Regions from separate parts of the Homo sapiens genome. Here regions 1 and 3 are each linked to region 2. Evidence: fine-mapped QTL for protein levels in blood plasma. A gene starts in region 2. Each other region holds a variant in brackets. All regions are shown on one strand. Distances are between the middles of the regions. Region 1 overlaps CSF2RB (colony stimulating factor 2 receptor subunit beta). Region 2 holds the start of CSF2RB (colony stimulating factor 2 receptor subunit beta). Region 3 holds the start of LOC105373023 (a long non-coding RNA gene).

Evidence for each region. PIP is the posterior inclusion probability: the model's chance that the variant is causal. Protein levels are from antibody-based Olink assays in UK Biobank. Linkage for the fine-mapping came from a reference panel and not from the study's own genotypes, which makes the PIPs less certain.
Region 1: its variant is fine-mapped to the plasma level of the CSF2RB protein (UK Biobank, PIP above 0.99). The variant lies in the coding sequence of CSF2RB. If it changes the protein, the assay may bind it differently, which can mimic a change of level.
Region 3: its variant is fine-mapped to the plasma level of the CSF2RB protein (UK Biobank, PIP above 0.99). The variant lies in the coding sequence of CSF2RB. If it changes the protein, the assay may bind it differently, which can mimic a change of level.

What each region holds. Positions count from the first base shown.
Region 1 is chr22:36,935,906-36,946,564 of GRCh38, reverse strand. CSF2RB (colony stimulating factor 2 receptor subunit beta) reads right to left here. Exons shown (of 14, transcript NM_000395.3): 13 at 9,913-10,016; 14 at 6,126-9,188. The coding sequence ends at 8,063. Among named protein-coding and RNA genes, the nearest start is that of LL22NC01-81G9.3, 24 kb to the left of the region's middle. The variant T/C (reference allele first, on the strand shown) is at 8,813.
Region 2 is chr22:36,908,212-36,918,890 of GRCh38, reverse strand. It overlaps CSF2RB (colony stimulating factor 2 receptor subunit beta), which reads right to left and starts at 5,263. Exons shown (of 14, transcript NM_000395.3): 1 at 5,214-5,263. LOC105373023 (a long non-coding RNA gene) reads left to right here. Exons shown (of 2, transcript XR_938230.2): 2 at 1-419. RefSeq lists an enhancer at 6,729-7,430.
Region 3 is chr22:36,924,669-36,932,668 of GRCh38, reverse strand. It overlaps CSF2RB (colony stimulating factor 2 receptor subunit beta), which reads right to left. Exons shown (of 14, transcript NM_000395.3): 4 at 6,492-6,682; 5 at 3,110-3,267; 6 at 2,862-3,030; 7 at 2,159-2,294; 8 at 1,839-1,996. It overlaps LOC105373023 (a long non-coding RNA gene), which reads left to right and starts at 6,726. Exons shown (of 2, transcript XR_938230.2): 1 at 6,726-6,919. RefSeq lists an enhancer at 5,966-7,165. The variant C/G (reference allele first, on the strand shown) is at 2,268.

The DNA of each region.
Region 1 (10,659 bases), 28 kb before region 2:
GACCAAGCCAGCCACAACATTCCCTTAAGCCAAAGCTTCATCCAGAGCAAGGCCTTAATGCTCCTCAATTCCCTGAAGGCTGAGAGAGGTGAGGAAGCTGCAAAAGAAAAGTTGGAAGCTAGCAGAGATTAGTTCGTGAGGTTTAAGGAAAGAAACCATCTCTGTAACATAAAAGAACAAAGTGAAGCAGCAAGTGCTGATGGAGAAGCTACACAAAGTTATCCAGAATATCCAGCTAGGATGATTAGTGAAGGTGGCTGCACTAAACACAGATACTCAATGTAGACAAAATAGCCTTTTTATCGGAAGAAGATGCCTTTTATTTGAAGCTGCAATGCTTCAAAGCACAGGCAGAATCTCTCGTTAGGGGCTAATGCCACTGGTAACTTTAAATTGAAACCAATGCTCATTTACAATTCCAAAGAACCCTAAGCCCCTTAAGTATTGATACAGTTGGCCAGGTGCGTTGGCTCACGCCTGTCATCCCAGCACTTTGGGAGGCCGAGGCAGGTGGATCACGAGTTCAGGAGATCGAGACCATCCTGGCTAACACGGTGAAACCCCGTCTCTATTAAAAATACAAAACATTAGCTGGGCGTGGTGGTGGGCACCTGTAGTCCCAGCTACTCGGGAGGCTGAGGCAGGAGAATGGGGTGAACCCAGGAGGTGGAGCTTGCAGTGAGCCGAGATCGTGGCACTGGGTGACAGAGTGAGACTCCATCTCAAAAAAAAAAAAAAAAAAAGATACAGTTTGGCTCTGTGTCCCGACCCAAATCTCATCTTGAATTATACTCCCATAATTCCCATGTGTTGTGGGAGGGACCTAGTGGGAGATAATCGAATCATGGGGACAGTTTCCTCCATACTATTCTCTTGGTAGTGAATAAGTCTCACAAGATCTGATGGTTTTATCAGGGGTTTCTGCTTTTGCGCCTTCCTCATTCTCTCTTTGCCTGCTGCCAACCATGTAAGATGGGACTTGCTCCTCCTTGCCCTCCACCATGATTGTGAGGCTTCCCCAGCCACGTGGAACTGCAAGTCCAATTAAACCTCTTTCTTTTGTAAATTGCCCAGACTTGGGTATGTCTTTATCAGCAGCATGAAAACAGACTAATACAAAAATTATGCTAAATCTACTCTGCCTGTGTTTTGGAAATGGATCAGTAAAGGCTGACAGCACATCTGTTTACAGCATGGTTTAGGAATATTTTAAGTTCACTGTTGAGATATAATGCTCAGAAAATATATTTCTTTCAATATATTACTGCTTATTGCCAATGTACCTGGTCACCCAAGAGCTCTGATGAAGATACACAAGATTAATGTCGTTTTCATGTCTGTGAACATAACAGTTATTATGCAGCCCTTGGATCAAGGAGAAATTCCTGCTTTCAAGACTTGTTATTTAAGAAACACATTTCCTAAGGCTATAGCTGTCATAGACAGTGATTCTTCTGATGGATCTGAGCCAAGTAAATTGAAAACCTTCTAGAAAGGGTTCACTACTCTAGATATCATTCAGAACATTTGCGATTCATGGAAGGAGGTCAAAACATCAACACTAACAGGGTTTGGAAGATGTCAATTACAACTCTTATGGATGACTTTGAGGGATTCAAGACTTCAGGGGAGGAAGGAACTGCAGATGTAGTGGAAATAGAAAGAAAACTAGAATTAGAAGTACGGCCTGAAGATGTGACTGAATTGCTGCAATCTCATGATAAAACTTGAACAGGTGAGGAGCTGCTTCTTACAGAGGAGCAAAGAAAGTGGTTTCTTGAGATAGAATCTACTCCTGGTAAAGATGCTGTGAACATGTTGAAATAACAACAAAGGATGAAGAATATTAAATCAACTTAGTTGACAAAGCAGCAGCAGGGTTTAAGAAGATTAACTTCAATTTGGAAAGAAATGCTATCAAATAACATTGCATGCTACCAATAAAAATTTCATGAAAGGATGAGTCCATTGATGCAGCAAACTCCATTGGTGGCCAATCACAAAATTGCCACAGCCTTCAACACAACCCCAGCCTTCAACAACCACCACTCCGCTCAGTCAGCAGCTATCAACATCATGGCAAGAACCCCCAGCAGCAAAAAGATGACAACTTGAAGGCTCACATGACTGTTAGCATTATTTTTTTTAAGCAGCAAAGCATTTTAAATTGCAGTATGTACATTGTTTTTTAGATATAATGCTCTTGCACACTCAATATACTACAGTATCCAGCAATTAGTCACATTTCTTCACTGTCTACAGCCCTTAGCCGAATAGTTGAGTCATCTCAATGGGGATGTCAAAGCAAACTAAATATGGCCTGAGAAGGACTCTGTACTTCCATATTTGAGTCCTTGTGGATGAACTACAACCTAACTTAATAGGTAGACAGGATTGAAAACCTAACTTAGGAGTATGCGTCTGTAACAATCACTGAGTTTTGGCCAATCCCAGCAGATAAACTTCAACAACTCATACGCTGCTGAGCGTTCAAACTGTGTTCAAATAAGGCAATCGCCAATCTGTAACCAATCCAGCTGTTTCTGTACCTCAGTTCTGATTTCTGTATGTCACTTTTTTTTTTGTCTATAAATTTGTTCTGCCCATGAGGCACCCCTGGAGTCTTTCTGAATCTGCTGTGATTCTGGGGGCTGCCCAATTCACGAATTGTTTATTGCTCAATTAAACTCCTTTAAATTTAATTCAGCTGAAGTTTTTAACAGGAAGATAGAGGACAGAGAATGACAAATTTCCAGAACCAGCCAGCAAGAAACACTTTTAACACACACACACACACACACACACACACACACACACACACTAGCAGATGCACTGCGTCTGAGCTGGGCATTGAAGCCTGAAGTGAGCCTGGCAGTAGCTGGGCTCAGGGAGCTCTCAGTCTAGTTGGAACACAAAGCTGTGAGCCAGGAATTACAAGATGGGTAATAAAGGCAGGGGGACAAAGTTGAGTGGCAGGACAGAGAGGCTGAGACATGCTCTGTGATAGAAGCAGGAGGTGGACAAATGCCTATGCAGATGGGGCAGGTCCTCCGTGAAACCCCACCTCCAAGCCAAAGACAGTTTAAAGCCTGAAAGCCAAGCTACAAGTTAAATCATCCGACTGGACTGGATTGAGAACTTGTCTTTCTGTTTGGCATGCTTACCTCTGATTAGTCCTCACCCTTCACCTATTTTACATATACCTCCCTACCCTTTCCTAATTGGTTTTCTTACACCATTGTGCACAGCTTTGAGTGGTGTTGTCACTTTAACCTTTTTTGCATACTCACAAACCAATCAGCATACACTCCTCATTTTGAATCCATAAAGGGCCCCAGACCGAGCCACGTGGCAAAACCTCCCCCTACACCCCACCTCCCACCCCTGAATCCCCTTTCCACGGAAAGCCATTTTCATCACTCAATAAAATTATTCTCAGCCCTCCTCACCCTCCAATGTCCAGTATATCTTCATTCTTCTTGGGCGAGGTACAAGGGCTCAGGAACCACTGAACATGGGTACAAGTTATACAAGTTATACGCGATAGCGTGGCCGAGTGAGACCTGGGCAAGGCATCACTGACTGGGGGCCCCGGCTTGCAAAGTGACCAAGAAGAAAAGTCCTACATCGTTTGGGAAGACTTGGGGATTTCCAAGGGAGCTGGAGGGGCTGTGTTCTAAGAAGAACCCACACTTGAGTTAGGACTTGTAGGGTGACTCTGTCCCTGGTGGAGTCCTGATAAATAAGCAACAATGAGGAAGAGGCCCCAGGTTGGGGAGGGCCCCAAGTGGGGAGAAAAGTCATCAATTATTCTCAGAGACAGCTAATCACAAACAACCAGGCACAACAACCTCGTTCTGCTTGTTCTGCATGTAGCCCTCTTCAACGTGACTCTATGAAACTTCCCTTCAGCCACTGCCTCTTTGCAGACAGCCCCTTCTCTGCTCATTGTAATTGCGACCTTGCAACGTATTTTCATACCTTCTCTAATAAATCTGCCTTTCTTTACCTACAACTGGCTTGGTAAATTCCTTTACCTCCTGTGCCACCAGACCCAGAGAGTTGCTACCTGCGTCACTGGGTAGATGAAGTTACCCCTGCTCAGGACACCCAGCATGACCCATGGCCCAAATCACCGCATTTCAATGCTTTGGGCACACTGACCCTGCACCCGGGCTGCCCAGCTTCTATTGATTGAGCACCACCGGATGCAGGTTGCCTTGTTGGGGTTGGGAAAGGATTGTTTCCAAACGAAGGAAAGGCTCCCTCTAGGAGCAAACGATTGTCTTGGTGCAAGGGTTCTGTGTGATCAATTAAACACGTGAAATGCTTGTGAGGCCCAAGCTGCTGATGGTCTCCAGCCCTGCTCCTTCCTTATGTAGTGTGTTCTCAGGGTTCCCCACCATGAAGGGCTCCGGGACTGGCCATTTCCACCCAACATGGGCTCTTCCAACAGGCAATTCATCCCCCAAGTTCCCCATGGGGGGACAAATGTCAACTCTGGATGGCCAATGGCTTCCCTAGCCCACTTCTGCTTCCTGCCCTCCCTTTCATCCCCCTAATAAGTTTTTTGTTCTCCTCCATCTTAGGGACAGCCTCCTGCAGGCCTTGCTCACCTCAATGATCACCTACTACATGCATGGCTCTGGGCTGGGTTCTCAGGGGAAGACAGATGAGGGAGCTGCAGTCCTCCAGGGAAGGTCTCTCTGGACTCCAATGGGTGAGAATTGCACCTTCAGTGTTCAGCTCCCAGATAAACAGACACTTTTCAGGGTCACCTCTGATTCAATCTCCCCCTGCCACCAAATCAATTTATTTGGTTTATGGATTTTTCTGTCTTGCCAACCAACATGGATCATCTTACATCTCCGTATGGATCTTTAGGTGAGAGACTTACCTTTTGAGGGCAGGCTCTGAGACACAGGGCTACAGTTCAAATCTTGGCTCTGCCCCTTACCTGCTGGCAGACCTGGGGCAAGTTGTATGACATCTCTGTGCCTTAGTTTCCTCAATGACAAAAATGATAAAGATAGTATCTTCCACTTCCATAGTATCTAAATGAATTGATCTTAGAGGTCACTCGAATGGGGCCTGCCAGGAATAAGCTCTCGATCACTCTCAGTTATTTGTATGGGGAACTCAGTCTCTATTTAGTTTTTCACTCTCATGACTAGGGAAAAATACAGGACGTTCAGTTGTGTTGGAATTTCAGATAATAATGAACGATTTTTTAAAAGTGTGTTCTTTATCCTCCTTTCCCTCACTGTCTTTCCTCTTCCCTCATCCCTCCTGGATTTTCCCAGGAGTGCCCTGCGTCTCCCTCCATTGCGTGGTGTTCCACACGCCATCATGTACCCACTGTAGTGCCCCAAAGACCAAAGGCCCTTCTGTTTGGCAGAATTCATTTCCTTGTGTTATAGGAATTATTAAAAAATTATTTGAGGCAGATAAAGAGGAAAAGTGGTCCTTGGGAAGTTTTCGTTTCTGTTTTAAAAGCAGCTCCAAAAAACGTTTCTTGTCTAGCAGGAAAGCCCCGGCTCTTAGAATCAGGCTGGCAACCTTTGATATGCAAATGCAGACCGTTAGAAACTGGGTCCACCCAAACATGGGGATTCCCGCCATCTTTTCCTTGTCCCCATGTTTGCCTGGCAATATGGCCACCCCCACATAGTCCCACCTGTGTAGAACATCATGGCGCCCTGCATTTGCATATTAAAATGCTAGGGTGAAAGGGCCAGGTTTTTCAGGGGTTACATGAATGACATGCCTGGTCAAACCAATCCCCTGAGCCCTATGCAAATCAGATACTGCCTTCTCTAGCCTCCTCATATAACTGGCTTATTTCTGTGGCACTCAGGGTTTCCTCTCTCAGCTTTGGATCCCCCCTCCCTCTGTCTCTGTACAGGGGAGCTTCTTCCTTCTTTCTTGCCTATTAAACTCTCCACTCCTTAAAACCACTCCATGTGTTTCCGTGTCGTTTTATTTAAATCGGCGCAAGACTAAGGACCCTGGTGTTCCTCCAGTCACTGGAGCTGTATCACTTACAATAGCAATTGAGGTTTCAAAGAGCAACCCCTTCCTCCAACTACACCAACATGCACACACAAATTCAGGGTTTCACTTTGTTTTATGTTACAAATATTTTATTGCAATTTTTTCCCTTTAACAATGTCTGGATATTTTGGAATTAATATCTCGGACTTCTTTCTAATCCACATTGGTTCATCTTGTTCATTATGAACAGAGGATTCTACTTTACAATGTACTAAAATGTTGTTATGTATTTCAGGACCATTGAACATTCAAGTTGTTTATCATTTTCTTTGACCACCAACATTGCTGTAATGAATAGGGATTTAAGAGCAAAAGTAACGAGAATACTTGCTTAACCACTTATGAAAACATATCATAAAAGTAGAACAATCAAAATGGTGGATGCCATAGAGAAAGCAAGGTAACAAAATAGGAAGCCTAGGGACCAATAAAGTATATATACAAGGATTTCCTATATCACAAAAGTAACACTTCAGGTACATGGAAAAAGAATTTCAGTACCAAAAGGCACCTCAGTCTCACATCCACACATTCAAAAATAATTAAAATTTTACATGAAAAGTTGGAAACACAAAATGAACTAGAAAAACAATATATAAATTAGGACAAACACTGCTTTGCAATGGGAGGACCTTTGTAAATCTGACAGTAAAAGTGAAGAAGGAGTTTACTAGGGATCTGTTTGACATTACAGAAGCATTCATATTCATACACCATAAAACCTCATATACAACATTATAAGACAAACAACAGATTTGGGGGAAAAACACTCCACCATCTGTGAAAGACTGTATGTCAATAGTCAAAAAGACTTAATCAGAAAATGATAGCACCCAACAGAAGAAAGACCTTAATGGGCTTGGCCCAGTTAAAAAATACCAATCGATGCCTAAGATACCTATAAAAATATGTGCAAACTGGATAACTAAAATAATGCAAATTAAAGCAATTTAATGCCATTATTTTTCCTGTATCTGAAAGGCAAAGATTTAAAAGAACCATAATCCCTGGTGCAGGCCCAGGCATAGATCAGCAGCCCCTCATCTGTGGCCGGTGGGAGGGAGAGTTGCCTGGTCTATCTGGAAGAGTGGCCACCCGGGCCATTTGGACCAAAGGCCCTAAAGCATATATGCCTTTGGGGCATTTTCCTTTGTTTGGCAGTTTCCCCTGACTTTTCCGCAGTAGACGTGGGCTCTGGACTCCTCTCCTGATGTTCCCCAGGTCCCGCCAGCCTGCCCACCACTTGGGCCGTTAACTTCTCTACATGACGTGGGGTCTCAAGGGACTGGAGGTCCCACAGACATCACTGAGACAACTAGCAGGGCTCCCCAGAAGCTCCCAAACAGTCTCTCATGTGCGTCCCTTGCACCGCCCCCCCGACCCCCAATACCATGCCCATTTCTCGGAGTGACAATCGAGGCTAGTCTGAATTCCCTGAGCCTCACTGAGCGTGCCCAGTCCTGTGCCACTCTTCCAAGCCCTAACCCCCACGGGTGCCCACCTGGTGCCTCCCACCTCTGCACCCAGATGAGAATCATGTCATGTGCATCAGCGACTGCCGGGGACAGGCAGCCCACACAAGTCCTCAACACAACCAGCCGCATCTCAGTCTGATAAGGCTCAGCTCAGACCTCAGCCCCACTCTCATAATAAATCAGTGAAAAAAGAAGGAAGAAAAATGGCAAAAGCAAGGAAACCTGATTAAAAAAATGAGGGGGAGATGGAATGAGTATATCTAGAAAGTTCTAATAATGCAGAACCTACAAATAAGTTAACCTGACAGGAAAAATGTGTGCATGTACGTGTGTGTGTGTGTGTCTGTGTGAGCGCAGGGAGAGAAGTGATTTGCTGAAGGTCAAGGGGGCCGGAGCAAGGCTATCTCCTTTCCCAGGCCTCTAGCTACCTTGACAGGAGGCTGCCCCTTGGCTTTGCAGAAATGACTGAGGAAGGTCAGGCGGGAGGGAAGGCAAGCCCTCTCCATCCCCTTGCCTGTCTAGGCCTGGGGGTCTCAACACACCTCCCCAGGCTTGTTGACCTCCCAAGGGGGCAGAGACAGGTAGTCCTGCTGCTTCAGGGCTTTGAAGAGCTGAATGACGGGCACCTGGGGCACAGCCTGGCCTGGGGGCTTCTTGACTTGAAAAGCCTGGTCTAGGTTCTTGATCTCAGGACCGGGTCCCGGGGAAGAAGGTTTACTCCGGAGCGAGAGAGGGCCGGGCCCCAGGCCGGGGAGGAAGCAATAGTCGCCCACTTGCTGCAGGACAAGGAGGCCCTCGGGCTGTGGGGATGTTGGGGACACATCTGCCGGGCGTTCCCCTGGGTTCAGGACAGGGCTTTTGGCCTCAGGGGGGACAGGATTGTTCCTTGGTGACCTGGGGGACCGGCCCTCAATTGGAGGGAGCTCCACATAGCCCTCAAACCCTGACTTCACAGGGCCTGGGGCTCCAGGGGGTCCACTGGCCAGCCCAGGACATAAGCTGGGGGTCTGGTCTGAGGGGAGGCCCAGAGAGGGAACTAGGGAGACAGACGAGGCCCCTGAGTTTGGGGTGAATACCAGGTCTGCAGAGGAGACATAACCAGAGGCCACTCCAGGGTCCTCAGTGTCCCCAGAGCTCATGGGTATAGCCACAGGGCTGTCCTTTTGGTCCTGTCCTCCCACCCTTGGCCCAAGAGCAGGAGGGGCAGGGCCTCCCCCGGACTCCAGGGAGGGACTCCCTGCAGCCCCCTGGCTCGGCCTTCTCTCCACTTCCACGGCCTGTCC[T/C]GGTCCCATCGCCTGGGCCAGAGGGACCAGTTGCACCTGCCCCCCAGCAGGCAGACACAGGTACTCCAGGGACCCTGGAGGTGGGGACTTCTGGCTCCCACCCTCCTGTGGGGGCTCCGGCTGGCCCAGGATGTCAGGTAGGGAGCGGCTGTGGGGCGGCCCCAGGTAGGGCCCATTGAAGTCAAAGCTGGAAGCCTGTTTCTCAGGTGTGTGGGAGGCGGCAGGCGGGCCTGGCTGGGGGCTGGGGGGCTGCTCTGTGGGTAGATCTGAGGCAGCTGGAGTCGTGTCAGGCCCAGATGGTGGATCACAGACATGCTTGGGGTCCTCTATGGTGAGAGGTGACACCTCGCTGTCCCCGAATCCTACAGGGAACACCCTGTGGGAAGAAAATGGGCAGAAGAGTTGGGACCACCCTGGGCAGATGATCCGGGTCAGGCACAAGGGTCTTGGTGGGGTGGAGATGGTTCTCTGGAAGCCCTGATGTCCCCCAGATCTCACAGAGAGAACCTGAACGGGACAGGGTTGAGGGAGCAGGGGCCCCAGAGAAGGACATGGGACATGGATTCAGTCTTTCCGTGGCTCAGGAGCTCCATCCTCCATGCTGAGCTCAAGGTCTTCCTCTGCAAGGCTGGTACCCTCTCCCTTTTGACCTTAAAGTCCATCCTCCTTCAGCACCAGGCTCATGCCCAGCCTGTGCACTGGGCAACCCTTCCATCATTCTATCAACCATGCCACCCCCTTCTCCCTGCCGAGTTGGTGGTCAGCTGCCGGCTCAGGCGCCGAGTTCCCGGGAGTCTGCAGCCCCAGCTACCCCATGAGGCCTCTGCAGTGTGACGCCTCTGAGGCAGCCAGGGAGGGGAAGGCCAACTGTTTCCCTCTTTCACTTCCGGTCACTCCCCTTGTCTGGCACTTCCTTACCTGGAAAGAGGAAGTTCTTCCTCACATCCCCCCCAGGTGCCTCCTGCTTTAGTGCAAACCAGCTCCCTTGGATCCCTTCACAGTGAGCCACAGGCAGCCTCACTTGAGTCCCTGATTTCCACAATGGAGTCAGCCCCCCGTATGAACCCCAAAGGTCAGGAGTGATCCACGAGCCCACTCACCCCTCCAGCTCAGGGAAGCGGCTGCCCCACGGCCCCTGGTGTGGGGGACTCCCGCTAGTGAAGGCCGACATGCTGCCTGGGGGCCAAAGCTCTGCGCTCCCGTTCTGCAAGAGCAGAGACATTTGGGCCGGTGAGCATCAGGAGGTCCGAGGTGGGGGCAAGGCAGAGGGTGACGGGGGTGCAGGAGGATTCAAGGAGCCCCCAGACAAGAGAAGAATCTCCACTTCTTCAGGACTGGCCACGGCCTTTTGACACCAGCAAAGTGAGGCCCAGAGAGGGGCGGGGACTTCCCCCATGTCCCTGCTACCTGAGGACAGGGCCCTTTTCCTGTGATTTTTCTAACCTGGAGTGCCTGTCTCCATGCTCACCCCCATTTCTCCTCCACACCAGCCAAGAGACCCCTCCACAGGCAAAGCTGGCCCTGCCTGCCTGACTATAGGGCTCCCATCACCCACACGCTGGTGTCTTCCCCATGGTCATCTCAGCCTCCCAACATGGCCCCCAGCCTCCTGTCCCACCCCTTCAGCTCCCTTCCTGAAGGGTTTCTGTCTCCACCCTCAAGATGCCCTGAGCCAGAGCAACTTTTGCCACCTGGCACCACTGGGACCCTCAAAGCTCAGCCCAGGTATCTTGTCCTTGGGGAGCCCTTCTGCCTCCTGACACCCCATCCATCCTGGTAGCAGGAACCCCCTCTGTGAGCCCACCCTGTCCCAGGCATCCCCACACTCAGTTCTCTCCACTGGGCTC
Region 2 (10,679 bases):
TGAGGTTACCTTGAGGATGGAAGCCATATGTGAAGATGATGCAACAGAAAGAGAGGAAGCTGGATTCCCACTCTCACTCTGGAGCAACCATACTAGCCTGAAACTGCTACCTCTGGGCATCTTTTATATGCTGGGAAAAAGAAACTTCTATGTTGTTAAGCCTCTGTTGCTTAGGGATTTTCCATGTGCAGCCAAACAGATACAACAGCAAATGGGGAAAGCTTCACAGGGCTTTCAAGGAGACAAGAGGCCACTCAATAAAGAACAAGACTCCTTTTTAAAATATTTTTCAAAGACAGTAAGGAATCTGTATTCAAGGGGGGAGGCTACTACGATGAGGTTTTGTAGTAGGGGACAGAGATCAGGGTTAACTCCCAAGATTCCTTTTAATAAAGCCATGCCTAGTTCTCACTGGTAAACTTTTCGTCTTGCAAGAATATGAGGATGATCCCAGAAATGCTTCCAGAAGAAAACAAATAGGATACTTTGAATGCAACAAGGGTCAGATTGGCTAAAGATTTCACATAAGAGACTCTGAACTTTAAATAGATGTCTTGAAAATACCAAGGGAAAATTATGCTTAAACCTAGAATCACAAAATGCCAAGTTTTCTTTGACATTTAAAGGACACAAAAAATTTTGAGTATGTAAGGACAAAGAAAGTTTTTCAGATCTTTTCTGAAAGAAATTACTCTAGGTTATATTTCAGGAAAAAAAAATCCAAGAAAGCTGAAATACTGAGGTAAATAAACCTGTAACACTTACAGATAAGTTAAAGAAGAATATTGAACTAAAACTCAGATGATTTTAATGTGGGAGTTTGCTGTGAGGCTGGGGTGGAGAATGGAAGAGAACTGAAAACTTGCTAAAGATCTCCTCTTGTTTTGGAAGATCATATATGTGCTAAATAAACCCAAATGCTGGTAGCAAATATGGTTTCTTTAAAAAAAATACTATTTTTTTTTTTTGAGACAGAATCTCACCCCATCACCCAGGCTGGAGTGCAATGGCATGATCTCGGCTCACTGCAATCTCTGCCTCCGGGGTTCAAGCGACTCTTGTGACTTAGCCTCCCAAGTAGCTGGGACTACAGGCATGCACCACCACGCCTGGCTAGTTTTTGTATCTTTAGTAGAGGCTGGGTTTCACCATGTTGGCCAGGTTGGTCTCAACTCCTGGCCTCAAGTGATCTGCCCACCTTGGCCTCCCAAAGTGCTGGGATTACAGGCGTGAGCCACTGTGCCCGACCCAGAAAATATAAGTTCAATACATTTTAAATCCCTAAAAACATAAAGATTAAAAATCACTAAGAATGAAGAGTAAGCATGGGGACAGGAGGATGACAGAGAAGGGATGGGAGGGACAGAGAAAGGAAGAGAGAGAAAAGAGAAGAGAAAAACCAAACACCTTCTTACTCAAAATAAACATGCACATATTACATTCCCAAGCTCATGAAGAAATTGAATGGCAGGGATAAACATTCCCAAGCTTATGAAGAAATTGAATGGCAGGGATAAAAACTAGGGGGGAAAAGCAAAATACAAATTCACTCCAGACAAAAACAATTTCATAGGTCAACCTGACAAAGACTTTTAAAAGAAGAAGACATCATGGCCAAGTAGAGGGTACTCCATACATGGAAGGAGAACCCTTAAGAAACCTATTTATGATTCAAACAAACAGATGAACGGATTAAAAGGGAAAAAAGGATAAGCTGATCTTGACAGACACTCCTAAATATTTAATAATAAACAAGACATTTCTGGTTAAATGAACAAACAAACCCTGGCAAATGAAGCAGTGGCGGAAACGTTGGCATCACTGAAAGTCTGCCAGAAACCAAAGGCGATGACAGAGTCAAGGGGGCACGTTAGTGTCCTCCTGTCAAAGCCTCACACAGGAGGCTCTCACTATTGTCTTTACTTCCAGTGGTCAATGTCCCTCAGATCATCTCTAAATTCAATGCAATCAACATGAAAATTCCAAAAAGGAATTTAATGGGCTTGGCAAACTGATTTTTATTTTTATTTTTGAGTTGGAGTCTCACTCTGTTGCCCAGGCTGGAGTGCAGTGGCGTGATCTCGGCTCACTGCAAACTTTGCCTCCTGGGTTCAAGCAGTTCTCCCACTTCAGCATCCCAAGTAGCTGGGATTACAGGTGCACACCACCAAACCCGGCTAATTTTTCGTATTTTTAGTAGACATGGGGTTTCACCGTGTTGGCCAGGCTGGTCTTGAACGTCCAACTTCAAGGGATCTGCCTGCCTCAGCCTCCCAAAGTGCTGGGATTATAGGCATGAGCCACTGTGCCTGGCCTTGGCAAACTGATTCTAAATTATAACAAACCAGAGATGAGAGACTTGCTCCATTCGTTAGAAAAATAATAAGGAATGTAGTGACAGCCAAATGGAAGAGAAAACAATAAAGAAAATAACGAAGTATGTATAGAAGCCTAGGATGTAATAGGGGCACTTCAAATCATTGAAGAGAGGAGAAATCACACACTCATAATTAGCAATGTTAAGACAATTAGATGGTAATTATTTTTAAAAGTTACTTTACACATTACTCACTTCTCTAAATTCTAGGTGGGCTAAAAATCTCAAAGTCAAAACCAAAATAGTAAAATTATTAAAACTCTTTCTGTAATCTTAGAGGTTTCAAGACACCAAACCAGAAACCATAAAGTAAAAAGAGGTTTACAAGACACCTGTGATCTTAGAGGTTTACAAGACACCAAAATCAGAAACCATAAAGTAAAAAGTAATGACAGGTTTGACTTAACAATGAAAACATTTTTATATGACATAAGACATCTTAAACATGGTAAAGAAAAAGATAAGTCATAACCTGGGAGAATATATTTTCAACATATATAAATGGATTATTAATACACGTAATAAATGAGTCACTCCAAAAGTTAAGATGTAAAAGAGAATTCAACAGGAGATGAACAAAAATTTCTCCACATTCATCATAAATGAAATCCAAAAGGCCAATCCACATATAGAAAATGTACAACTTCACCCATAATCAGGGAAAGAAAAAAATCACGCGACATTGAGAATTTCCATACATAATATTGGACAAAATTAGAAGATTGATAATTTCTCTAAAGGTAAATTGGACCCTTTATGCACTACCTTGGGGACGTCAGCTTAGCTCAGCTACTTTGAGGCTGATTTGACAATACCTATTATAATTTCTAACGCACAACCTCTGCACAGCAATTCTGCATTTAGTAATTTAGGCTACAGAAACACTTTCACAGATGTGGAAAAATTAGAAACAATCTAGGTGTCGATCAACGTGAGATTAGATGAATTGTGGTGTACCCATCCTAATAAATGCCACATATTTCTTAGGGTTACTTAACGAGTTAAATCTGTATGTATTATTGTAGAAATTTGGAAATATTCCAAAATACAATATTAAGTGAAAAAATTAGGAATATATATATATATATATAAATAAAATAATCCCATTTCTGTAAAAAGAAAAACTACCATCCTGGCACAGTGGCTCAAGCCTGTAATCCCAGCATTTTGGGAGGCTGAGACAGGCGGATCATCTGAGGTCAGGAGTTCGAGACCAGCCTGGCCAATATGGTGAAACCCTGTCTCTACTAAAAATACAAAAATTAGCCACGTGTGGTGGCTCATGCCTGTAATCCCGGCTACTCAGGAGGCTGAGGCAGGAGAATCACCTGAACCCGGGAGGCAGAGGTTGCAGTGAGCCAAGATTGCACCACTGCATTCCAGCCTGGGCGACAAGAGTAAAACTCTGTCACAAAAACAAAACAAAACAAAACAAAAAACAAACAGGAAAAGAAAAACTATATGCTTGTATCATGCTTAGAAAATGTTCTGGAAGAATACATGTGGTGAAAAGAATAAGCTATGGAACTAGGGAAAAGAAATTGCTGGGGACTTTGTCTCTTGTGCTACATAATTCTAGATTATTCTAATTTTCATGAAGGTAGGTTTCTGTGTAGTTGCTTGTTTAGCATTAAATACATTCCTTATACAACTCATGAATTATCCTGTGGTGTTGGTATATCTGTATACTGGAACAATATAAATAAAACTGCTGGATGAAAAAAAGAGTGACCAAAAGCTAATAGGAAATGTTTACTCATTATAAAATGATTACAAAGCAGGAAAGATGATAGAAAAAAATTAGAATTGGGCTGTACAAAAATATAACAGCAGGGTTTTTGAAGACTAAAAATTGCACATATGCAGCTTGTCGCTAGCACCTGTCTGACAAGGTCCCAGTGAAACACCTGCCCTTTCATTCTCAGGGCCAGTACACACACCTGCACACACCCTGAAGCAGGCACCCCAGATACCCACCCACCCAGCCAGCATACTTGGGTACAGAACACACACACCTGGGCCCCAACCCAAATCAGCAACCCAAATCAGCAGGGCAGAGTGTCATAACTAAAAAGACAGACAGACAGAGAGAGAGACTGAGAGAGAGAGAGAGAGAGAGAGAGATTGCTGGATAGTGCCTGGTATGTCTCTGGGCAAAGTGCTGGGCTCTTTCTCAAGTTCAAAGTGAGCTTCTCAAGCCACACCGCACCCAGCTCTGGGCCTCAGCGCAGCAAGCTTCCAGGTTTCACCCTCTGCCTCTTAGTCTCTCTGCACTCCTGCATCCCCAGACATCCGCACATGCACATACACACACAGGCACACACACAAATGCACACACGGGCAAACACACGAGCATGCGTTCTCTCTCTTTCTAAACCAAGATGTCAGGGACTATCCATGCTCCCCATTCCACAGATGAGGAGACAGAAGCCCAGGGTGGACAGGGGGTGCTCTCACTACCACCAGCATCTTAGTGACAAAGCGAAGACAGACTATAGGTGCCTGACTCCCAGGCCTGAGCTCTCTTCACCCCACTAGGCGTCCTTCCCACCAGGACCAACCAGATCCCGCTAGCGAGGCTGAGTCCTCCCCAGAGCTCTCCTACAACACCCAAGCAGCTTGGCACCCCTGGCTGCCTCCCCATCCACTGGCCGCCCTAGGAGTCTGGGCTCAGGTCATCCTAAGAGGCCAAGCCCTAACTCCTCCAAGTCCCCAGGGCACAGCTACCCACAGGACGCCCCCCAGGCTCCCCCTGTCCTTTTTCATCCTGGACTCCCCACATTCCCCCCTGCTCTGACCCCACCCCTCAGCCCTGCTCCTGGACGCCGGGCCATACCTCTGTGTGGTGGGAGAGACCAGTCTTCTTCTGGAGCCTCTAGGCAGAGTGAGCCTCCCACGTTTCCTATTTATGTTGATGTCATCAGGAAACAGAGAAGCAGAAAGAGGAAGCAGTGCCGGCCCAGGCCTACTTTGCTAATAGTGCACGTGACTTTTCTTACTTCCAGAAAGCCTCCTACTCCAATTTACCTTCCTATAAACTCCTAGGCCTCCTTCAAGCCTCAGCTGACGCAGGGCCTCCTCCATGCAGCCTTCCCTGACTGCTTGATGGGGATGCAGGTGGAAGTGGCTGCAATAACCATAGCTGGTTTGAGCCCAGAGCCAGACAGATCTGTGTTGGACTTCCAAGTCCACTGCTTCTTAAAGCGTGTCCTTGTGCAAATCATCTGCGTGTTACTTCCCCAAGCCTCGGGACATCCATCTGTCTGTTACTTTTGCAGAAGCATCTACAAACCTGGAAGGACTGTTGAGGGAATCCAGTGAGATTCTGTGCAGGAAGACCTTAGCTCAGAGCTGGCCACAGGAGAACCCCCTACAAGTGGTAGCTGGTGGCATGTTGATTTCCCCGATGTCCTCTTTGCCCTGCCGCCCCACCCCACCATGTGTCATATGGTCATGTGTGTTCATGGCTGTCTTTCTTCTGACACTATCTTCAGTGCTGGCTTGTGTCCGGCTTGCACTTCCCTCCCAAATACCTAGCACATGGCCTGGTACAGAGGAGAAATTGCACCTTTGACTGTGTGCAAATGAATAGATGAATGAATGAATGAATGAATGAATGAATGAATGAATGAGTGGCTCCCTGAGCACAGCAGGGCCAGCAGAATTAAGGTCAGGTGAGTGAGGCAGTCTCTCGTGCTCAAAATTTAAACAGGCATTTAAAAATTCAGTAATTGTTGTAAGTAATATTTTAATGCAATATGGTTTAAAAAAATCCCAACTGATGCAGAAACTATTCACGGTGAACCAAATATGAAAAGTTTGAATAAAGACAAGATGAATCACAGTGCCAAGACACAACAAAACGCAGTCATATTTCTCCTACATGGGGCTGCCTCCCAGGAGAAAGGGCAGCAGGCAGGAATGAGGGGAATGGAGGGCAAGAATGAGGGGAATGGAGGAAATGGAGGGGCAGGAACCTGCCTCGAAGCCACTGGAATTCTGGCCTGATTGTTGTTCTTTGCTTTCCTCCTACCAGGAAGGGCAGGGTTGGCCAGGAAGAGCTGGCAGGGCCTCACCCTAGCAGAGAAAGCCCAGGGTAGAGGAAGGCATGTGTGGTTCTCTCAGGCACTCCGGTCAGTGTGAGGTCCCTGCCTGGCATGGAAAAACCCTGCAGGGGCTTCTCCAGGGCTGGAGAGGATGGAATTAAAGTGACGTCCCGGGCTCTCTTTTCTCCCAGGTGTCCCCACTCTGCCTGTCTTTGCTGAGGTCCTCTGTGGGACTGGGAGGCTGCGGGCCTGGATGCCCTCAGGAGCACAGAGGATGCTGTCTGGTGGAGAAACGAAGAACCCGAGACTCTGAGTCAAAATCACTCCGGACACCAGACCCAAAATGTGAAGGAGCTTTAGGAACACCTCAGCCAATTCACTTGACTGACCCTTTCCTTTTAAAAGTCATCATAGAGCAGCAGGGGATAAAAATCTACATTTGAATGAGTCTAACAGAGTTCTCTCAATAAGTATTAAAAGTTCTAAGCGAGAAGAATCACACCGTCAGGAATTCATTGAATGTTTTCGTTTGTTTGTTTGTTTTTTCCTTCAGTGGTATGTAAAATACCGTGTCTTGCAATTGACGATCTTTTAGAGACTAAGAAACCCAAGAAAATGTTGGCAAGAACGTAGTACTCATAATGACCAGGGCTTGAGCATTTACGCTGTGAGCAGACCTTCGGCTGGGGGCTTCTCCATCTCTTCCCAATAACCTTTATGTAGCTGTTACTGTCTTCACCTTACAGATGAAGAAATTGAGGCATGAAAAGGAAGATAACTTGTTGAAAGTAGTAACTCGTATATGTTAACATTGCATTTTTTTCCATTTCCATTTTTATTCTGAAACTATTTCAAAATACAGAGCGTTAAAGGAATGATACAAAGAACTCTCACATACCCTTCATGTGGAAACCCCCTTTGAGTTTCGCTAAGCTTCTCAATAATGGTTTTGTAACAAGAAAATCCATCCGGGACTTTGCATTCTCTCTAAATGCATGGCTCTTAGTTGCCATGTCTTTCGGGCCTCCAGTTTGAAACAGATGCCTTGTTTTTTCCTCGACATCTCGAAGACTGCAGGTTGGTTGTTTTGAATAATGTCCCTCGATTTGGCTCTGTCTGATGATTAGAACTGGGTTATGCTTTTTTGGCCAAAATAGCACAGAAGTGATGCTGGATTATTCTTGGTGAGTCCTATTAGCTTTCATTGTCAATCTGTCCCATCACTAATGTCGTTCGCTCTGATCATTTGATTAACTTGACACCAATCAAGTTTCTCTATTGTAAAGTTACTTCCCCTTCCACATCGTAATTTATAAGCATTTGGTAGGGAGATACTTTTAAGCTTTCTCATCCCACTCCCACACTTGTATAATTTCAGTATGCAATGATGTTCCTTAATTTAATTAAACATTATCATGATGATCATTGCCAAATGGTGACTTTTAAAAATTCTGTCATTCAGAAGTCCTAGCCAGAGCAATCTAACAAGAGAAAGAAATAAAAGACATCCAAATAGGAAAAGAAGAAGTCAAACTTTCTCTCTTCCTTGATGATATGATTTTATACCTAGAAAACCCTAAAGACTCCACCAAAAGTCCCCGGGAACTGATGAACAACTTCTATAAAGTTGGAAACAAAATCAATGTGCACAAATCAGTAGTATTTCTGTGCACCAATAAAGTTCAAGCTGAGAGCCAAATCAAGAATGCAATCCCATTTGCAATAGTCACACACACACACACACAAATAAAATACTTAGGAATGCAGCTAAGCAAGGTCATAAAAGATCTCTACAAGGAGAACCACAAAGCACTGGTAAAAGACATCATAGATGACACAAACAATTGGAAAAACATTCCATGCTCATGGATTGGAAGAATCAGTATCATTACAATGGCCATACACCCAAAGCATTCCACAAACTCAATGCTATTCCTGTCAAACTACCACTGTCATTTTTCACAGAATTAGAAAAAACTATTCTAAAATTCATATGGAACCAAAAAAAAGCTCGAATAGCCAAAACAATCCTGAGCCAAAAGAACAAAGCCTGAGGCATCACATTACACAAATTAAAACTATACTAAGGCTACAATAATCGAAGCAGCATAGCACTGGTATAAAAACAGACACATAGACCAATGGAACACAGAAATAAAGCTGAATACCCGCAGCCATCTGATCTTCAACAAAGCTGACAGAAATAAGCAATGGGGGAAGCACTCCCTATTCAATAAATGGTGATACGATAGCTGGCCAGCCATACACAAAAGAATGAAACTGGACCCTTACCTTTCACCATATACAAAAATTAACTCAAGATGGATTAAAAGTTTAAATGTAGGACCTCAAATTATAAGAATCCTAGAAGAAAACCTAGGAAGCACCACTCTAGACATCATTCTTGGGGAAAAATTTATGACTAAGTTCTTAAAAGCAATTGCAATATAAACAAAAATTGACAAGTGGGTCCTAAGTAAACTAAAAAGCTTCTGCACAGCAAAGGACACTATCAACAGAGTAAACAGACAACCTACAGAATGGGAGAAAATATTCGCACACTGCATGCAGCAAGGGTCTAATATTCAGAATCTGTACAGAACTTAGGCAATTCAGCAAGCAAAAAATAAAATAAAATAAAATAACCCCAATAAAAAGTGGGCAAAAGAAATGAACAGACACTTCTCCAAAGAAGACATACAAGCAGCCAACAGATATGAAAAATGCTCAATATCACTAATCATCAGAGAGATGCAAATCAAAACCACAATGAGATGCTATCTCACATCAGTTGGAATGACTATTATTAAAAAGTCATAAAACAATAGACGCTGGTGAGGCAGCAGAGAAAAGCAAATGCTTATATGCTATTGATAGGAATGTAAATTAGTTCAGCCATTGTGGAAAGCAGTTTGGAGATTTCTTAAAAAACTTAAAGCAGAACAACCATTTGACCCAGCAATCCCATTACTGAGTATATATCCAAAAAGACACCTGTGCTCGTATGTTCATTGCGGCACTATTCACAATAGCAAAGACATGGAATCAACCTGGTTGCCCGTTAACAGTGGACTGGATAAAGGAAATGCGGTATATATACACCCACGGAATACTACACAGCCATAAAAAGAATGAAATATGTCCTTTGCAGCAGCATAGATGCAGCTGGAAGCCATTATCCTAAGCAAATTAATGCAGGAACAGAAAACCAAATACTGTATATTTTCACTTATAAGTGGGAGCTAAACATTGGGTGCTAATGGGCATAAAGATGGCAACAATAGACACAGGGAACTACTTAGAGGGGTGAGGCAGAGAGGCAAGGATTGAAGAACTAACTACCCGGGTACTACACTTACCATGTGGTTTGGGATATGAATTATCATTTTTCACAGAATTAGAAAAAACTATTCTAAAATGCTAAAGTATTATGAGATAACAAAGGGGCACGTACACCCCCTGAGTCTAAAATAAAAGTTGCTATTGTTAAATAAATAAATAAATAAAATGTCACCATTCCTTTTGTATTTAATAGTTGGCATTCTACCTAAGGAAGAGTTTGTTTTCCTTCTTGTGTTCTTTGTTAACTTATATAATCAGTGTGGACTCACGGATTTCTATTTTATTAAATGGCTTACAGTCAGTACCTACCATGATTTATTTTAATGCTCAAATCATGCCAACTTTGGCCAGTGACAGCTCCTTCAAATGGGCTCCTGTGTCCTTTTCAATGATCCCCATCGTTCTTTAAGACCTCCCTGACTTTCAGGCAGCATGAAATGCTCATCTCCTCTCCTATTTACCTTGCCCTGGGCTCGGACTTGGGAATTTTCTCCAAGGGGCTTGGGTTCCTCATAGTAGAGAATGGTATTTAGAGCCAAGATACACACACAAGGTGATCTTGCTCCCTGCTGCCCAAGTGTCACTGTCCTCAGGTCTCTCACTGGACAGAGCCAGAGAATGAATGAACAAATGCGTATATTGTACTTACAGCTATATTTTTTTTCTTTTTTTGAGACGGAGTATTGCTCTTGTTGCCCAGGCTGGAGTTCAATGGCACGATCTCGGCTCATTGCAACTTCTGCCTCCCAGGTTCAAGCCATTCTCCTGCCTCAGCCTCCCAAGTAGCTGGGATTACAGGCATGCACCACCACGCCCGGCTAATTTTTTTTTTTTTTTTTTTTGTAGAGACGGGGTTTCACCATGTTGGTCAGGCTGGTCTTGAACTCCTGACTTCAAGTGATCCACCTGCCTCG
Region 3 (8,000 bases), 15 kb before region 2:
CACCAGACCCCAGGTTCTGCCCATGGTTGGATCCTTTTCATCCCCACTTCACTATATCATGTTTTGACCTGAGTGGTATTCTCGTGGGAGATGCTGAGATACACTTGTTTTGTAGTGATGTGGCCCAGTGCTTGCACTACTCCTATTTTTATTTTTATTTTTTGCAGTAAAAATAAAACCACTGTTAGTTGGTTCTATTCTAGGCAACTGGCTATTTTTTTTTTTTTTTTTTTTGAGACGGAGTCTCACTCTGTTGCCCAGGCTGGAGTGCAGTGGTGTGATCTTGGCTAACTGCAACCTCTGCCTCCTGGGTTCAAGTGATTCTCCTGCCTCAGCCTCCCGAGTAGCTGGGATTACAGGCACCCGCCACCAAGCCCAGCTAATTTTTGTATTTTCAGTGGAGACGGGGTTTCACCATGTTGGCCAGGCTGGTCTTGAGCTCCTGACCTCACGTGATCCACATGCCTTGGCCTCCCAAAGTGCTGGGATTACAGGCGTGAGCCACCGCGCCCAGCCTGACTATGTTTTAGCCACTGTTATACATACTTATTCTACATGAATTATTCCACTCCATTCTAACAGCCCTATATGGTGGGTACTATTAACCTTCACTTTTCACAAACAGGGAAACTGAGTCACAGAACCATTAAGTAACTTGCCCTAAGGAAAGGCAGCTAAGCAGTGGTAGAGGCAAAGATTGCAATCCCACCAGTGTGATGGGCTCTCTTGTCTGACACTCTCAGAGGTGTAGGGAGTTGACTAAAGGCCAGGACATTCACACGTTCTCATCGCCAGAAAATCCCCAATAAAGCGGCTGTAACAGGCCTTCAACAACATCTAGGTGAGGCCTCTCCCCAGCCAGATAGTGGCCAAAGAGAAAGGGAAGCCCTTTGCAGACAGCACCTCCCACCTGGCCGGCAGACCCACAACTTGAAAGAGGCAAAGGGTAAAGAAAGCAGAAACTGGGCAGGGAGTGAGAAGTTCTGAACTCTAATCTTGATCTGCCTACTAATAGCTGTGCAGCTTTAAGTAAGCCACTCAACCTCTCTGAGCTTCAGTCTACCCAAAAGAAAAAAGAGAATGCTTATAACCTTGATGCCTTCACTGTATAAACATAATATGAATGCCCGTAATTTGCTGAGGTCTCTTATGTGCCAGGCATTATATGAGGCCCTTAATATATCCTGTGCTTTTGAACAATCAGAATTCCTTTTTCCAGTGAGGATCCCAAGAGAGTTAATGGTAAATTCAAACCCAGGTAATTAAGACAAATTGGCCTCTGCCCTTCACATATGCTAAAGACTGGATGGAAGAACTTGGTCATCATGAAACAACGTGAGAGGTTCCATTGCACTGGGGTCCTTGTTACATCACAGAAACGAGGGATGTTAACCTCCAAGGATCAACACTATTTGTACACACCACAGGCTCCAGTTGAAAAGTACATCATAGATCAATTACATTAAAGATAGAATATCAGTCGGTGGGGAATTTCGGATATCAGAAAGAGGAAAATCCAATGAGGAATGAAAGGGAAGGTTTTGGTGACAGGACCAGGAGGGTGTGGCTAGCAGTGGAGATTTAGAGAGCTGCAGGATGGGAGAGGGAAGCAGAAGAAAAGGACAAGAGATCAGAGGTTTTAAAGATCTGCTCCTGTTTTTGGCCACTGCCGTCGTGGTTTCATTGCTTCTCTGTTCACTTTTGGTCACTGGACTGCATCTCTTTGAAAGTGACAAACATGAAGACGGGGCCAGGAGGAACCCTGAACTGATTCGGGTTACACAATGAGGGTGTGCTGGTCCCAGACCATCCCCACAGCGGGCTAGGAGCAAACTCACTGTTCACTGAGCTCTTTATGTGTTTCTCTGCCCTCCTTGGCTGAACAGAGACGATGTATTGGCCGTGGGTCGCGGGGTCGGGCACGGGAATCTGGCAGTGGTGCCTGGTGTGGAGGCTGCCGAGCCCCTCCCTCAGCACTGGGGAGCACTCTTCCTCCCTGAGGAGCACAGCAGAGCTGAGGGCAGGGAGAGGGAGGGCACACGGGAGGGAGGAGAGCTTAGGGTGGGCTGTGGCTTCTGCTGGGGCCCCAGGGACAGGAGGAAGCTTGGAGAGAGCAAGGCCAAGAGGAGGGGAGGGGATGGAGAAAAAAGATGCTCACCCTGCATCTGGGCTGGGCTTGTAGAATAGGCCAAAGGAGACCGAGCTGGCCACCTCCTTCCTCACCTCCCAGGAGCAGCTGAGCACGGCGGCCCCGTCAAAGAAGCACT[C/G]CAGGTTCTGGGGCTGGGCCTCATCCCCTGGGTTGGAGACAGGTCCTCATGTACTCCGTCATTCATCCCTCCCATAGCTCTCAGTGGGTGCCCACCGTGTGATTCATCACACAGAGGTCATGAGCTCTGGGGCCAAAAGACCAGGGCTGAAACTTCAGCCTGAACCTGCCAGCTGTGTGTCCAACAGCTCCGAGAGAGAGAGAGAGAGTTCTGTGCACCTGCACGCCCTCCCGGGAGAATGGAAATAGTATCTAAGTTTCAGTGTTTGGGGATTGAACTGAAAAATGTGGGTAAGCCCTGAGCATCCTGTAGCCTCCATTAACACACAGCTGCTAATAGCACTGTTGTTGTTATTATTGTAATTGCCATTGGCAGAGAACGTGCAGAAAACTGGAAACCCAAAGTGAACAGATGCAGAGTCCTACTGGTCAGTGGTCACAGTAGAGGTGGGACGGCCCAGGGACGCTACTGGAAAGATGGCAGCAGGAGATCTGGGAAGCCCCCAGGTGGAGCCCAGGAACCCTGCTGTGCCAGGAGCTCCTGATGAGCCTGCCCTCCCACCACGGGGCATTTCCTGGGCTCTGGCAACATTACCTGGCTGGGAGTCCCAGCAAACCTCTGGGCTCCACTTGCTGGGACGTCCTGAGAGCCGAGAACCTGGGGCCAGGCGGGTCCGTACTCGGGCCACGTAGGTGCTGCTGGGCATGAGGTGCTCTGGCCCCAGGGTGGCCTGGGAGGTGTTGGAGAGGAGGATGGCTGCGTCCTGTCAGGAGACAGTGGGTGCTGGAGGAGGGGTGCTGCCCATCCCTTCGGGCTGGGGCAGAGCTGGCCGTGGTTCCTACCTCCCAAGAGTCCTGAAGCCGCTTGTAGACCACCTCAAACTCCAGATCCCCTGGGGACAACCAGTGGCTCTGGGGACTCCCAAGGGCCACACTCCAGGTCAGCAGGAAGTGGTCCTGGTCGGTGCTGATCTGCAGGTCCCTGGGCTCAGGAGGCTGGACTGGAGGGGAGGAAGTGAAGGGCACCTAAGGGCTGGACCGCTGGGGGGCAGTCAGGGCCTGCATGGCCTTTTGTGTGGACACAGGGGGTTCCAGGCCACCCCTGCCCCCAGCAGCTGAGGGACCTTGAGCAAGACCCGTCTCCTCTGTGAGCCTCAGCCCTTCATCTGCAAAACTGTAGGGTTTCAACATGAAAGCAATGGAAAGCCGTGCAGATTGCAATGCGCACGTGACCCGAACTCCATAAAAAGCGCTGGCGAGGAAACTCATTGGAGCCTCCTCTGTCCTGAGGCTCCCCACTGCCCACGCTGCGGCCTGGGTGGCTCCTGCTAGCAGAGGGGCCTGCGGTTCAGCGGCCTCCCCCCTCCTGCTGTCCAAGCTCCCTTCCTCCTGCCCAGGGTCCTTCCTGTTGTCAGTGCCCCGGGCAAATGCCTCCGGCTCTAGGAACATCCTCGGATCTGCATCTCCAGGCGGAATCCCTCATTCCTTCTCTCATTTCACCATAGCTCAGTGGAATTCCCTCCACCAGGGCCTTACCACAGCTGAGGGATTCCTATGCTTCTGTGTCTGCCTCCCCTAAGGTGTGAGGAGATGGGGGTGGGTGGGATTGGTCCTGACCCCCTTCCCTACCTCCAGGCTGAGATGCGGCTTCTCAGTGAATTATGGGGCAAGGTGAATGAGTGAATGAATGAACAAATACGCGTAAGCAACTTTGGGGCTTCTCATGAAATCCTTGCAGCCACAAGGCAAGCATCTATCTCCTGGGAACTCTGGGTTGTTCAAGAAAATGCAGAATGAAGACACGGCACCTGATTTCTGGTTTCTGGTGTCTGCTTGCTGAGGGATGGCTTTCAAACGAAAACATCCTCACACATAGGATGTAAGTGCTCTCTGCTGGACATGGGTTATGGCATGCTAGAGCATGTCAGGAACCATCAACCCAGAACGGCAGACACACAGCAGGGGAACCGCCCCTCCTCACCCACAGCCAGGACAGGCGTCCCTCATGGGTCACTGCACTCCCAGCCCCCGAGGCTGTCATGGAGGGGGAGCTCTTCCCGGCAGAGCCCTCTCGGAAGCTGCCACAAACTGCGCAGACTGGGAGCCCCATCAGAAACCTGCTCAGCCAACTCAAGAGAAACCTCTTGAGTCCACCAGCTCATTTCACAGACGGAGAAACTCATAGAGGAAGTAAAATGTCCAAGGTCTCCAAACATGGAGACTCAGAGCAGATCAGATGCATGCCTGTCGCCTGCCCAGTACCTCCCAGCATCCTTGATTCATTGCTAATCTGCATTAGGCTGGACCCTACCTCGCTACTCAACACAGGCTCCAGGAGGCCAAGGGCCACACTTCTCTCCCTATATCTAAGTTGTCTCCATCGCCTTAGAAACCTTCCTTGTTTCCAGGCTGTAAGCTCCAAGGGCAGGGTTGCTGGCTGGTTTGTTGACTGCTTCGTTGGCTTATGTAGGCGCTCAAGGAAAGAAGGTTGAATGAATGAATTGTGTGTATATCTGAACTATGATTTGCATGCCCTCATGTCCCCATCTCCTAGCCAGTTGTGTCCTCATCATTTCTAGGAATGAGTGCTTTAGGCCACAGCCTGAATTTCAACTTCTTTCCCAACTAATGCTCCTCCAATCTACCCTGTAAGTCCCCTGTCCCCAGCATTCTCACATCCACATCTGATCATGTCATTTCCCCTCAGTGCTCTCCATGCCTAGAGGGTCCCCTCTACCTGAGACTGCAGGAGACAGAAGCCTCTCCAGGGACAGGTCCTTACCTGTGTCTCCTGCTTCTTCCCACCGCTGTCCAGCCCTTGAAGCTGATGCTCCCTGGACACAATGGTGAGCAGGTTCCCCAGCTGCCCATGCCCTTCTGATCCCCCAGCCTCTGCACAGCTGTTACCCTGCCAGAGAGGCTCTTACTGCCCTCCCCTCCTGTCTACCCTTCAGATCTGAGTTGCAAAGCTCTTCCCTCTGGGAAGCCTGTTCTGATCTCCCAGGGGCCCTGCCCTTTACCCCCTGCATGAGGCACCCACCCGCCACTGTCAGTAAGTTCTCACGGTGGACGGCATACAGTGTTTCCCCTCCCTCCAGCCTGGGCCCCCTGAGCTCCATTCGGGAAGGAAGGGACTCTCGTGTCCATCAAACCCATGTGTGGAAATGTTGCTTCTGATGGACTCCTGGTGGCCTAACTGATCCCCTCCTCTGGCAGTGGCTTTATGATGTTGTGGCAAAAAAGGGCAGGAAGCCATGGTCAGAGCCCCTTCCGTGTGACCCTTGCAAAGAGCACCAGGTGGTTCGGTGGTTAGGACCGGGGACTCAGACCATCCTGCACTGGATCTCAGCTCTGCCAGCAGCAGTAGAGAGGCCTTGGACTAGTCACCTCCCTCTGTCTCCGTTTCAGCAGCAGCCAAAGGCACCAATAACAGCACCAAGCCTGCCGTGGTTCTGAGACTCCCAATGACAGCCTGCAGTACCTCCTACCAGCCTGCCACCAGCATGGGTTTTTGCCACGTCAACGAAAACTTTCATAAAACGTGTCCCTTTTCAGGTTTAGCTTCATTCTAAGCAACCATTTCCTTGAATCCAGGACTTCGAAGTGCAGGTTATATTTCTTTCTAATATAGAGGCAAATAAAACCTAACTACATAAAATAATCATCTACCCCACCCTAGACCACAGATGGCTTCATGGACCACTGTGGGATTTCGGCCCACACCGGGGCCCCTCCTCCAGGGCAGCGAGGAGACAAGCTCCCTGTCTACCATGCAGGAAGCCCCCGGGAAGGCTGACCCCATCTCTGTCATTACTGCTCAGCTGTGGGACTTCAGAGGAGGCATCTGACCTCCTGGGCCTCAAGGGCCACATCCAGGAAATGGGTTGCTTCAGAGATGAGATGAAACAACTAAGCGGACAGAGTTTTCTAACTTGGTAGGTTTCTAAGTGAGTGGTGAGAACGGTTTTCTTCAAGACAAGCCTGCAGTGCTGGAAGCCCATGGCTTAGTGGGAGGTGGTAGCAGCCAGGGGCACAGGAGAAGCCTTTGTCAGGGGCCCCTCTGCTCTGAAGTCTCCATGTAACCAGACCATACCCTCATCCCTCAAGAAACCCTCACCCAACCCCAAGCCACAGCCTTCTGCCTTGAAGACTCCCTGGACCACCCCTGGTGCCCCCGCTGTCCACACAGGAAACCAAGCCCCGGGCAGGGCCCCCAGCCCCTCACCATGCTGGGTCAGAGTGACGGTGAGCCGGGTGCCCAGAGGCCTGTCTGGTTGGAATGAGAAGTAGTCAACGTCAGTGACGACAAAACTCTGGCAGGGAATGACACATCTCCTGGGCACGCAGCGGGGATGGGGGCAGGCTGACCAGGGCATGTCATCACTGAGGTCACAGGACACTGGCTCCAGGAGGTCCCTGTTGGGAGAGGACACGGCTTAGCCCAGGGTGTATGGGTATCACTGACTCACGAAAGGTTCCTCGAGTGCTCACCACATGCCTGGCTCTGTTCAGAATCAGGGGCCAGCAGTGATAAAACACACAAAAATCCTGCCCACGGAGCTGCCATCCTGGGAGAAGGGGACCCGCATGGAACAAAGTGTGTAGCGTGTGCAGTGGAGAGAACTTCATGTGGAAAAATAAAGCAAGAAGCAGGTGAGGAGGGAGGAAGGGCTGGGCCAGGGAGGCAATTTGAAATATGGGACAAGCAGGCTTCTCTAAGGAGGTGACCTGGGGGCAGAATGTTAAAGGCATTGAGGGAGGGACTGTGCAAATTGTGAGGATTTCAGGAAATGGGAACAGCACGTGCAAAGGCCCTGGGACAGGCAGAGTTTGGTGTGCTGCGTGGCTTGGCCTAAAACCAGTGCGCAGGGAGTAGAGCGTGTGATAGGGAGGTCTAGGAGACCCATCCATCTACATGATGGGATTGGATCTCACTGCGAGTGAGTGGGAAACAGTCATGAGCAGAGGTGTTGTAGATTTTGATAAATGCTTTGAAAGGATTCCTGAGGGTCCTCGGTTGCGAATAGACTGAGGTGGGAATGTGGCAATGTTGGAAGCAGGGAGCCCAGTTACGAGGCTTCTGGAATATTCAGGTGACAGGAAGTGGCGTGCAACAGGGTGGTCAGGCTGGCGTGGGTGAGATTCATGTTCTGCTTGAGATAAGGTTGGCAGCATTTGCTGGTGGAGGGATGTAGCAGTCAGGAAGGAATGGTGACAAAAGAGACTTAAAAACAAAACAAAATCCTCCCTGTTGTTTAGTTTGAGCCACTAGGAGCTCCCATTTAGAAAGGGAGATGGGGAAGACAGAGGCAGCAGCGCAGCTCGGGTGAGAGCGGGACTTTGGTTGAGGACGTTTGGAGTCGGAGACACCTGTTGTCTAAGTGACAGGTGGAGAGGCCAGTACGCCTGGAGGGCTGGAGCTTAGGGGAATTGTGGGCTTGAGGTCACCTTTGGGAGATGCCCCAGGGGCCTGAGGGGGTCTCTGCAGAGTGGATACAGCAGAGAGGAGGTCCATGGACTGGGCCTGGGTGTCTTGCCATCAGGAGGCAGCAGACAAGGAGAAAGAGGAGGATGGGCAGGGCCCCGGGGGCACTGGGTGAGCTGTGGGCAGAGTCAGGTGCAAGAGAAACTGCAGGGAGGCCGCGGTGGTCCTCCTTGTCAGGGGCTGCCCCTGGTCAAGTAGGAAGAAGGCGGAGGCCCAACCATGAGATCCTGCTCCCTGGGACATTTGCTG